Homo sapiens: one gene and its partners. The protein of the gene in region 3 purifies or fractionates together with the protein of the main gene of each other region. This does not show direct contact. Each region holds a gene or a part of one and is shown on either strand. Other genes may lie near its edges.

Region 1 (3,752 bases), on a different chromosome or scaffold from region 3:
TATTTTTCACTATGGAAAGGACAATTATAGCCCTGTTTTTCTCCATGTTAACAGAATATGAGCTTTAAGAAAGGATTTTAATCTCTGGAGACTGGGAGGGTGGACTGTGTTTGATTCATTTGATATGCCCAGCGGAGGCACCTGTTTTCTTCTCTGGCTTGGACTTGCTACTCTAGCTCTATCTAAATATATAACATAGTGCAACATTCCAAGGAACACTGTCAACCTTGGTGGGTGATACTAATTTACAAATAAGTATGACACATTAGAGCCTTTGGGAAGGGGAGGAGAAGCCCAGGCACTTAGATGACACTTTATGTAAGAGGACTGGAAAGCCAGAATCTATTTTTGCTCTCAACAGTTTCCTGAGCATTGTAAACCAAAAAGTATCTGAGACACATCTCAGTCAATGTAGAAATTTATTTTGCCAAGATTAAGTACATGCCCATGACACAGCCTCAGGAGGTCCTGAGAACATGTGCCCAAGGTGGTCAGGCTACAACTTGGTTTTATACGTGTAGGAAGACATAAGACATTAATCGATACACATAAGATGTATATCGGTTTGGTCTGGAAAAGCGGGACAACTGGAAGCGGGGCTTCTAAGTCATAGGCAGATTCAAAGATTTTCTGATTGGCAGTTGCTTGAGTTATTATCTAAAGACCGGGAAGCAACAGAAAGAAATGTCTGGGTTATTATGATAGGGGGTTATGGAGACCAAGGTTTTATCATGTAGATGAAGCCTCCAGGTAGCAGACTTCAGCAAAAATAGATTATAAATGCTTCTTATCGGACGGAAGGAGTCTGTTTTATCAGTCTTAAGGTCTCTGTGTTGATGTTAACTCCAGTCAGCTTTGTCTAAATTCCAAAAGGGAGGAGGATATAATGAAGAATGTTCAACTGCCTCTTCCCAACATGGCCTGAACTAGCTTTTCAAGTTAACTTTGGAATGCAGTTGGCTGAGAGGAGGGGGCCATTCAGGTGGTTGGGGGGTTTACAATTTTATTTTTGGTTTACAGCATCTAGGCTCAGTAATCAGGAAAAACAAGCCCTCTTCTACGAATCAGTTCGATTGAGGTGGGGCACATTCTTCACTTTAGCTATCTCTTCATCTAACTTCTGCTTCTGTGCCCTTTGCCAAGCTTCCATCCCCTTTAAGGTTAGGACAGGGAAAGGAGGGAACTCCTTAGCCCCACTCTGGAAGGAAAGTGCAACTAGTCTTGGCGGAGCTTAGGTACGTAACAGTCACCAATGCCAACCATCTTGTTGCCCTTAGCTCCAGTCTGACCATGTCATAACACTGCCCCAGTTGGAAAATTCTAGATTATCCCCTCATAGTCCTTTGCCTCTGGGACCCACATTGACAAGTTCTGCTTCAACAGGATATTTCTACCCACCTTCTCTTTTGCTTTGCACTTTTTTAAATAACCCAACTCTTTAAACCAGATTAGATTTACTGGTTTATTTCTACCTCTACCTGTCATCATCCTAAAAATTTCAAACCAAAACTTATTAATTCAACAGCTGGCAGTCTTCTATGAATGCCCTTGTGTACAGAAATCTATAGAAAGTGCTGGGGAAAGACTCAATAGGAAATAGTTGAAACATGAAGAGACATGAAGTCAATGAATGAAGGTGTGATAATGATCCAATGTAAAGGAAAATAGTTAATAATAGCTATTTTAACTAAACGCTTCCTCTATGCTAGACAGTAAGCTACTCACCATAGCTAAATGTTTTTCATAGATTATTTCATGTAATCCTCACCTGGGCTAAGTTTTATTAAACTCTATTTTACAGACAGCTTAGCAAGCTTCAGTTACATGTTCAAAGTCACAGAACTGGCAAATAGCAGAGGCAGGTTTAGAAAAGAAGCCAACCTTACTCATAAGCATGGGTTCTTTCAAATAAGGTATATACGTTTCCCAACTGAAAGATTGCCTCTAAGCAGTTTCAATTCAATTTTAAGCAGTGGTTCTCAGCCTTGAACTCTTTTGCCTCCCACCCCAGGGAACATTTGGTCATAGCTGGGGATATACTTGGTTGCCACAAATTGTCATACAGTGCTACTGGCATCTGATGAATTGAGGGATGCTACTAAACATTCCACAGTGCTCAGGACAGTACCCCACAACCAAGAATCATCTGGTCCAAAATGCCAACAGTGCTGAGGTTGAGAAATCCTGATTAGGAGGATGGTGGATTTTTAAAGCCACTTCCTAAAAAGCAGGTTGTTGTGTCTATACCTCACTTATGTGCACATTATGTCCCATCACAGATGACAGCAGCCTTCTGAATCTAACTCCCTACCCCCTGGTGAGAAGACGGAAGAGAAGGTTCTTTGGGCTGTGTTGTCTCATCTCAAGCTAGGTGGCTCCTCCTGGAAACCCACTGAGAACATCTGAAAAAAAATCACAAAACCCGAGGACCTCCAGACAGCTGAACCACACAGTTATTGGTTTTTGACTATGTTTTCTATGCTTCCTTATTACTTTTATCTGCCTCCCCCTGCCCTTTTAAATGATTTTACACTTGAAAGCAGCTGCCGTCAAGAAAAAAAAGAACAGATTCAAAAACCAGGCTGTTTTTAAAAGGGAATTTTAAAGCTGACATTGTGCATGTCTGCTCCAAACCACGCCATGACAGATGCAAGAATTATGATTTTTAAATTATTTAAAGGTTTTTTAAATGTATTATACAGAGGAAAAATATTTCACATATAATAGTATATCTATAGCTCTTGCTGATCTCATGTTAAAATTTATCGTATATGAAAGAAGTCTTTAAACATAGAAATCTATTTAAAACTGAAAAACTGTGTTCAAAAATCCAATCTATCAATATCATTAGAAATAATATTATAAGCAAACATATACCACCTCACCTATTGCTTTCTCTGCACTCATTTACATTTAGTCTTCCATTCTGTCAGAATCTAAGAGCTTCAACATAAAAGTATCTTAATTTATAAAGCAACAAAAACCACATATGAAAAGTACTAAAATTTTGTAAATACACAATAATCCTAATACCTTCGTACAAATGCATATGGGCAACTAATTTCTTTTTGATCCAATGATGTCTTTTTCAGCTTCTTGGAGAATGAAGTAATCCAGTTAGGAAATGGTGTAGTAACATATACAATTGCCCTCAAATGTAAAATCAAATATTATTACATTTTGTTCTAATTGAAATCTGAAGCATGGTGTCTGCACATCAGCATAGTGTTAAATCTTATAGGGCATGCTGGAATTAGCTCAGATTATAAAAATATTTAACATTTTACATTGTTAATAAAGTTTTTTAGTTAAGCTAAGCTTGTCTCATTTTAGATGACTATGCAGATAAGATTTTTCCAACGTGTACTTGGTGTCTTGTCTTATGCTTAGACTCTTGAAAGCAGGACACATTAAGCAATACTATATTTTAGAAAGGAGGAAGCCACATGCTTTGTTTTTCTGCTCACAGCTTTGTTGTGATCTTCCTTCACTAAACTTGTAACATGGTACAAATTTTGTTATACCGTCTCCTGTTCTTCCTTTGGCCCATTTCCCAGACAGAATTTCCCATGGGTTGAGAGATCAAGTCTTTGCACTTTTTTTCTTGTTTTCCATAGTCTGAAAAACCTTCAAGTCAGACAGGAGGCACCAGTGTCCAGTACAATAGAAGGATGAGCTAGATGCCGATAAGTGGTTTATCCAAGACACATCTTTAGTCCCAACCCTGTTCTTTACCAATACTTATGTGCACA
Region 2 (3,752 bases), on a different chromosome or scaffold from region 3:
AATTTTTGTATTTTTAGTATTGACGGGTTTCACCATGTTGGCCCGGCTGGTCTCAAACTCCTGACCTCAGGTGATCTGCCTACCTAGGCCTCCCAAAGTGCTGGGATTACAGGCGTGAGCCACTGTGCCCAGTCTCTTCCCAGGTATTTATTAAGCACTTGTTATATACCAGTCAGTTGTCAGAGCACTTAACTACATACCAACTCTTTTAATTCCCACTTAGTACCTACTGCTATGGTGTGTAGCTACATCGCCTCCACTTTAGAGGTGAGGGAACTGAGGCTCAGGTTAAGTAACCCAACCAAGGACCTATCGCTAGTAAGAGGCAGCAGTGCAATTTGAACCTATGTAGCCTGACTAGAGAATTTGAACCAATGTAGTCTGACTAGAGATTGAGTACTCTAAATTCCTACCCCAAACTTCCTCTATGAAGACCTGGCAACACTAGACCACATTTCTGGAGCACAGTCATAGCTGCCCCCTTCAGAAGGGAGCAGAGTAGGCCATTTCACCTCATAGCAGCCATAATGTAGAGGGGCAGATGTGTGTATGGGATGATGGCAGGAATAGTGATGGGGACACAAGGACCCTATAACTCATAAGTAGAGAGGAAGACAATTTCCTCATCCACCACTGGAAGAAGACTTGTTACTCAGTAGTCATGTGTGCCCCGTGATGATTGTATTTGCTTATTGTGTTTACTGTATTCTGGACACTGTACTAAATACTTATATTCTCATTTAATGTTCACTTTAGTGTCACATACACAATAAATGCTAGTTAAGATGGTACGGTTGGGCTGTGCACAGCAGCTCAAACCTGTAATCCCAGCACTTTGGAAGGCCAAGGTGCGCAGATTGCTTGAGCCCAGGAGTTTGAGACCAGCCTGGGCAACATAGTGAGACCCTGTCTCTACTAAAAAGCACAAAAATGTAGCCAGGAGTAGTGGTGCACACCTGTAGTCCTAGCTACTGGTGAGGCTGATGTGGGAGTATCACTTGAGCCTGGGAGGTCAAGGCTGTAGTGCACCATGATCATGCCACTGTACTCCAGGCTGGGTGACAAGAGAGATCCTGTCTCCAGAAAAAAAAAAAAAAAGTTTGTGAGGTTGTGTTTTTGGAGATAAATGAAATTCTGTATTGTTATTATGTAATTGTATATTATTTAGTTCTTCTTAAATTACTGTGTTCTTTATGAAAAGCGTATGGTTTCCTTGGGAAGTAGTTTTGTCAGACATGTATAATTGCAGTATCTGTAAAGGTAAAATAAAAGAATAAAAGGTGGATCACAAAAATATGGTACTCTTTGTGTTTAGTAAGCCATGGAATTTTGAATGATTTTTTTTTGTTGTCGTTGTTAATTTACATTTACTATTTATTTATTTATTTAGAGACGGAGTTTTGCTCTTGTTGACCAGGCTGGAGTGCAGTGGCATGATCTTGGCTCACTGCAACCTCCGCCTCCCAGGTTCAAGCGATTCTCCTACCTCAGCCTCCCGAGTAGCTGGGATTACAGGTGCCGGCCACCATGCCCAGCTAATTTTTGTATTTTTAGTAGAGATGGGGTTTCGTCATGTTGGCCAGGCTGGTCTTGAACTCTTGACCTCTGGTGATCCACCTGCCTCAGCCTCCCAAAGTGCTGGGATTATAGGTGTGAGCCACTGTGCCCGGTCCATTTACTATTTATTAATAATACATTTCTCACACTGGACAAATTTTCTTTAAGTCATTTTACTGAAAGCAAAACTACTTCCTAAGGAAAACAAATACGTATTATAAAGAACGTAGTAATTTAAGAAGAACTAAATATACAACTATGTAATAACAATACAGAATCTCATGTATCCCCTCAAAACAACCTTAAAACTTTTTTGTTTTTTTTGTTTTTCTTTTTTGAGATGGAGTCTTGCTCTGTTGCTCAGGCTGGAGTGCAGTGGCGCGATCTTGGCAAGCTCCGCCTCCTGGGTTCACGTCATTCTCCTGCCTCAGCCTCCCCAGCAGCTGGGAATACAGGCGCACGCTGCCATGCCCAGCTAGTTTTTTGTATTTTTAGTAGAGATGGGGTTTCACCATGTTAGTCAGGATGGTCTTGATCTCCTGACCTTGTGATCCGCTCGCTTCGGCCTCCCAAAATGCTGGGATTACAGGCGTGAGCCACCACACCCGGCCACTAAAACAACCTTAAAATCTTAACTAGCATTTAAGTAATAAGTGCTTATTGTCAGTGGATGAAAAACTTTTTTATACTGGCCACTGTTTTTGGCAGATGTTGATGATTGCTTCTCTTACATGTGTTGCTGTTTTGTTTCCTCTTTAGGTACTTGATGAAGAAGCAGAAGTTTTTATAGTCAAAATGTGGAGATTATTGATATATGAAACAGAAGCCAAGAAAATTGGTCTTGTGAAGTAAAACTTTTTATATTTAGAGTTCCATTTCAGATTTCTTCTTTGCCACCCTTTTAAGGACTTTGAATTTTTCTTTGTCTTTGAAGACATTGTGAGATCTGTAATTTTTTTTTTTTGTAGAAAATGTGAATTTTTTGGTCCTCTAATTTGTTGTTGCCCTGTGTACTCCCTTGGTTGTAAAGTCATCTGAATCCTTGGTTCTCTTTATACTCACCAGGTACAAATTACTGGTATGTTTTATAAGCCGCAGCTACTGTACACAGCCTATCTGATATAATCTTGTTCTGCTGATTTGTTTCTTGTAAATATTAAAACGACTCCCCAATTATTTTGCAGAATTGCACTTAATATTGAAATGTACTGTATAGGAACCAACATGAACAATTTTAATTGAAAACACCAGTCATAAACTATTACCACCCCCACTCTCTTTTGATCAGAAATGGCAAGCCCTTGTGAAGGCATGGAGTTTAAAATTGGAATGCAAAAATTAGCAGACAATCCATTCCTACTGTATTTCTGTATGAATGTGTTTGTGAATGTATGTGTAAAAGTCTTTCTTTTCCCTAATTTGCTTTGGTGGGGTCCTTAAAACATTTCCCAACTAAAGAATAGAATTGTAAAGGAAAAGTGGTACTGTTCCAACCTGAAATGTCTGTTATAATTAGGTTATTAGTTTCCCAGAGCATGGTGTTCTCGTGTCGTGAGCAATGTGGTTTGCTAACTGGATGGGGTTTTCTTATTAATAAGATGGCTGCTTCAGCTTCTCTTTTAAAGGAATGTGGATCATAGTGATTTTTCCTTTTAATTTTATTGCTCAGAAATGAGGCATATCCTAAAAATCCTGGAGAGCTGTATTTAATGCATTTTTGCACTAATTGGTCCTTAGTTTAATTCTATTGTATCTGTTTATTTAACAAAAAATTCATCATACCAAAAAGTGTAAGTGAAAACCCCCTTTAAAACAAAACAAAAAAATGAAATAAAATTAGGCAAATTGACAGACAGTGAGAGTTTTACAAACATGATAGGTATTCTGCTCGGCAATTTGTAAGTTTACATGTTATTTAAGGATAAAGGTAAATCATTCAAGGCAGTTACCAACCACTAACTATTTGTTTTCATTTTTGTCTTGTAGAAGGTTTATATCTTGTTTTACCTTGGCTCATTAGTGTTTAAAAATGTACTGATGATGTGCTTAGAGAAATTCCTGGGGCTTTCTTCGTTGTAGATCAGAATTTCACCAGGGAGTAAAATTACCTGAAAACGTAAGAAGTTTTAAACAGCTTTTCACACAAATTAGATGCAACTGTTCCCATGTCTGAGTACTTATTTAAAAGAAAGGTA
Region 3 (3,752 bases):
GGATCTCTGCAGGGTCCAGCGTCCTCTAAATTGGAGGCTCTGAATCAGGGATTCCTGAAAAGGCACAAGAGAGGCCCAAGCATGAACCTCTTGAAATTGTTTGCAAACTTCAGTCAGTGTTGTGTACATGTGCATGTGTGTGTGTTCCTGAGTGTCCATAGCTTTCATCAGATTCTTACAGGTAAATATCACCCGAGAGAATGGATAAGAACCACTGCTTTTTTTTTTTTTTGAGACAGAGTCTCACTCTGTCACCCAGGCTGGAATGCAGTGGCTCAGTCTTGGCTCACTGCAGCCTCTGGGTTCAAGTGATTCTTGTGCCTCAGCCTCCTGAGTAGCTGGGATTACAGGTTGCTCCACCATGCTGATTGATTTCTGTATTTTTAATAGAGATAGGGTTTTGCCATGTTGGCCAGGCTGGTCTTGAACTCCTGACTTCAAGTGATTCACCCGCTTGGGCCTCCCAAAGTGCTGGAATTATAGGCGTGAGCCATCACACCCAGCCAAGAACCACTGCTTTAAAGGGACATTGGTTGACTGTGCCTTCCTAAGGTAAAGGCCTTCTTGTTTTCTTCCAACTTAAACATTTTATCTGCTACACTCAATAACCATCGAGTATGTTTAAGAGAAAGTGCTTTATATAACAAAGCAGAAAGGCTCTTGATAATAACTTAGAGGCTTCATCCTTGCATTTTTCTCAAGATGAAAACGCTAACATAATGAGCTGTCAAGGTAGGTTCATCAATTGTAACAAATGGGCCACTCCAGTGGAGGATGTTGATCATGGGGGACGCTGTGCGTGCGTGGGGAGAGGGGATATATGACGTGTCCCTATACCTTCCGCTCAATTGTGCTGTGAACCTAAAACTGCTCTAAGAAATAAAGTCTATTAAAACAAGCAAACCAGCCAGCTGCAGTGGCTCACTCCTGTAATTCCAGCACTTTGGGAGGCCGAGGTGGGTAGATCGATTGAGCCCAGGAGTTTGTGAAACTCCCTCTCCACAAACAATTTTTGTAAAAATTAGCGGGGTGTGGTGGCACGTGCCTGTAGCCCCAGCTACTGGGGAGGCTGAGGTGGGAGGATTGTTTGAGCCTGGGAGGTTGTAGCTGCAATGAGCCATGATTACGCCACTGCACTCCAGCCTGGGTGACAGAGCAAGACCCTGTCTCAAAAAAAAAGTTAAACAACAACAAACCCAACAACCAACTAACCGAAACACTAAGAATCAGAGAAGTAAAATATAATTCGCTTCATCCAGACAGCTAGCCCGGTGAGGACTACAACCTTCCTCTCTTCCTTCTTCACTTCTTTGCTCTCTCTTTTTAAACCCACATCTTAGCAATTCCTCTGCTATTGGGTCATTAAATCGCCACCTCTAATTTTTTTTTCTAAGCATTTATTGAGGGCCAAGCACTGTGTTACACATCTCCTCATTAAAATGGTATAGCAACCTTTTCTGGTCGATATTATGATCCCATTTTTCAATTTTTACTTTTGAGTGAAGGACATTGATTCTTAGAGATTGTAAGGAACTTGCCCAAGGCTGCCGGCTGGTTAGTGGCAGAGCTGGGATGGGAAAGTCCGTATTTTCCACCGCGCTGTATTAGTGAGGGCTCTTTGTGTCACTTCTGTGCATAACTCCGCCCCAAGTTAAAAGGCTCGCTGCTCTCGACAGGTCCTCCTCCTCCTCCCGCTAGGTCCTCCTCCTCCTCCCGCCAGGTCCTCCTCCTCCTTCTCCTCCCGGGGCCCTGCCCTGCGGGTCTCACCTGCTGCTCCGCGGGGTCCCGGCGGGGGCCGGATAGCGCCCCCTGGCGGCAGGTGGGCGCCCGCGCAGCGCATGCTAATGAGCCCGCGGCGCCGCTCGCGGATTGGCTGGCGCGGATTCCAGCTGCTTTCCAAGTCAGCGGCGCCTAGTGAGAGTCAGGGGGGCCCGGCCCGCGCCCTCCCCGCCCAGCCGCCTCCCCGTCGACGCCCAGGGCTGGGGCGAGCCAGGCTGCCTTTCGAACTTGGGGGGCTTCTCCTCTTGTCTCCCACTGGTGCTCTGGCTGTGAATCCATCCAGGGGCCAGGATGACAATCCGACACCAAGGCCAGCAGTACAGGCCGAGGATGGCATTTCTCCAAAAGGTAACCCTGGCCCCTCACCTGGACCCTGGGAGGAGGGCGGGGGACCGCATCTGCGAAGCGTCCGAGGACAAGAGGGGCAGGAGTGGAGAGCACCCCTTTGGGTCGATTTGTGCTGCTCGATTTTATTAAGTGACTTCTTTGCTGTGTGTGTCGATATTGATGGCTATAATAATTAGGTTTTCGTGTGCCCTGCCTGTAGTGGAGAATCTGAAGCCAGCGCTGATGGTCTGCGGGAGGTGAAAACAACCTGTTACTCGGGAGAGGCAGGTTCAGTTCAGGCTGTGGCAGATTTGAGACAGCCTGCTGATATTGTTGTAAGACGACCAGATGTGACATTGCCATTTTTGCCTTTTTTTTCTGATCCCAAACTGCACTATTTTAAAGTGTGTGTGTGTGTACACATAGACCATGAAAACGGGGTGATTTGTAGGATAAAGGGCCACCCCATTTACAATGCCCTGAGAGCCCTCATTTGAGTGTGTCTATCTGTGCATCTCCTGCTGTCTGCGCTGGCGGCAGAAGTCCCAACCTTTTCGCTTCCCTTGCGAATGCTTTCCCAGACAAAGTGACCGGGCACAGGGTGTGCACACAGGATGGACATGTGGGAGGTGGAATGCACCTGTGGGGTGATGTGTTTGGGGACAAAGTGGTTCATTTAGTTCTGAGCTTCTGGTATAATCACTGTCCGATGAGATCTACAGAGGATTAGGTCCCGGGTCACATCTTTGTCCTTCCTCCCACCCGTAGCCACTTTTCACAGCGTAGTGTCCATCTTCTTAGGCTTATCTTGTTGAGTAGAATTAGTTGAATGTTTTGTGACAAGCTGAGCTCTCCCTGAGCCCCTGGAGCTCAGCAAATTTGTATAGTCAGTGACCGCTGTCCTGATTTGCCCAGGACTTTCAATGCTAAAACCTGGACAGTCCTGGGGACCCCGAGACGGTCGCATTTGGTCCACCTGTTTCAAGATGCTCGTGCTCATCTTCCGGGTAGCAGAGGTGTGGGTATCATCTGTAAAGCAGACAGGCTGAATGTTGTCTCACTCAGAAAGAACCCTGAGAGCCTGTATTGCAGATACCAGTTACTAAAAGCAGAAGAAACTGCCTAAGTCGGCTATCTCAAAGCCACACATCATCTTCCAGGATTTATCCTAGGACTGTCTCCTCCCAGGCAGGACAGCTCTGGCTTGGGGGCTCAGAGGGTAATTGTCAAGAGATAAATTCAGTTTGTTTATTGAATCTCTGGCATTCTTTTCCATCATGACTCTTCTCTGGTAGATTCTCCTCTCCTTACCTTGGTCTTCTGACTAGTGTCTTGGTCTCTAGTTTCTCTCCTCCACCCCAGGCTTCCCTCCTCCTCCCCAGCCACCCCTCCTCCACCCCAGCATCCCCTCCTCCACCCCAGCATCCCCTCCTCCACCCAAACTCTCCCTCCTCCACCTTAGTCTCCCTTCCTCCACCCTAACCTCTCCCTCCTCCATTCCAGCTCCCCTCCTCCACCCCAGCTCTCCCCCCTCCACCCCACCTTTCCCTCCTCCACCCCAGGTCCTCTTCCTCCACCCTGTCTTCCCCTTCCTCTACCCCATCCTCCTCCTCCTCCCCAGCCTTCTCCTCCTCCATCCTAACTTA

The links.
Region 1: the proteins of RGS9 (region 3) and RGS7BP purify together in Homo sapiens (affinity purification with western blotting; 2 studies listed by BioGRID). This does not show direct contact.
Region 2: the proteins of RGS9 (region 3) and RBM25 purify together in Homo sapiens (affinity purification with mass spectrometry; 2 studies listed by BioGRID and IntAct, with this or other methods). This does not show direct contact.

Annotation. Positions count from the first base shown.
Region 1 is NC_000005.10:64,606,882-64,610,633, forward strand, and holds part of RGS7BP (regulator of G-protein signaling 7-binding protein), read left to right. Parts: intron 1-2,279; coding exon 2,280-2,371; 3' UTR 2,372-3,752. UniProt on the Homo sapiens protein: Regulator of G protein-coupled receptor (GPCR) signaling. Regulatory subunit of the R7-Gbeta5 complexes that acts by controlling the subcellular location of the R7-Gbeta5 complexes.
Region 2 is NC_000014.9:73,117,397-73,121,148, forward strand, and holds part of RBM25 (RNA-binding protein 25), read left to right. Parts: intron 1-2,316; coding exon 2,317-2,409; 3' UTR 2,410-3,752. UniProt on the Homo sapiens protein: RNA-binding protein that acts as a regulator of alternative pre-mRNA splicing. Involved in apoptotic cell death through the regulation of the apoptotic factor BCL2L1 isoform expression.
Region 3 is NC_000017.11:65,135,471-65,139,222, forward strand, and holds the start of RGS9 (regulator of G-protein signaling 9), read left to right. Parts: upstream 1-1,899; 5' UTR 1,900-2,070; coding exon 2,071-2,127; intron 2,128-3,752. UniProt on the Homo sapiens protein: Inhibits signal transduction by increasing the GTPase activity of G protein alpha subunits thereby driving them into their inactive GDP-bound form. Binds to GNAT1. Involved in phototransduction; key element in the recovery phase of visual transduction.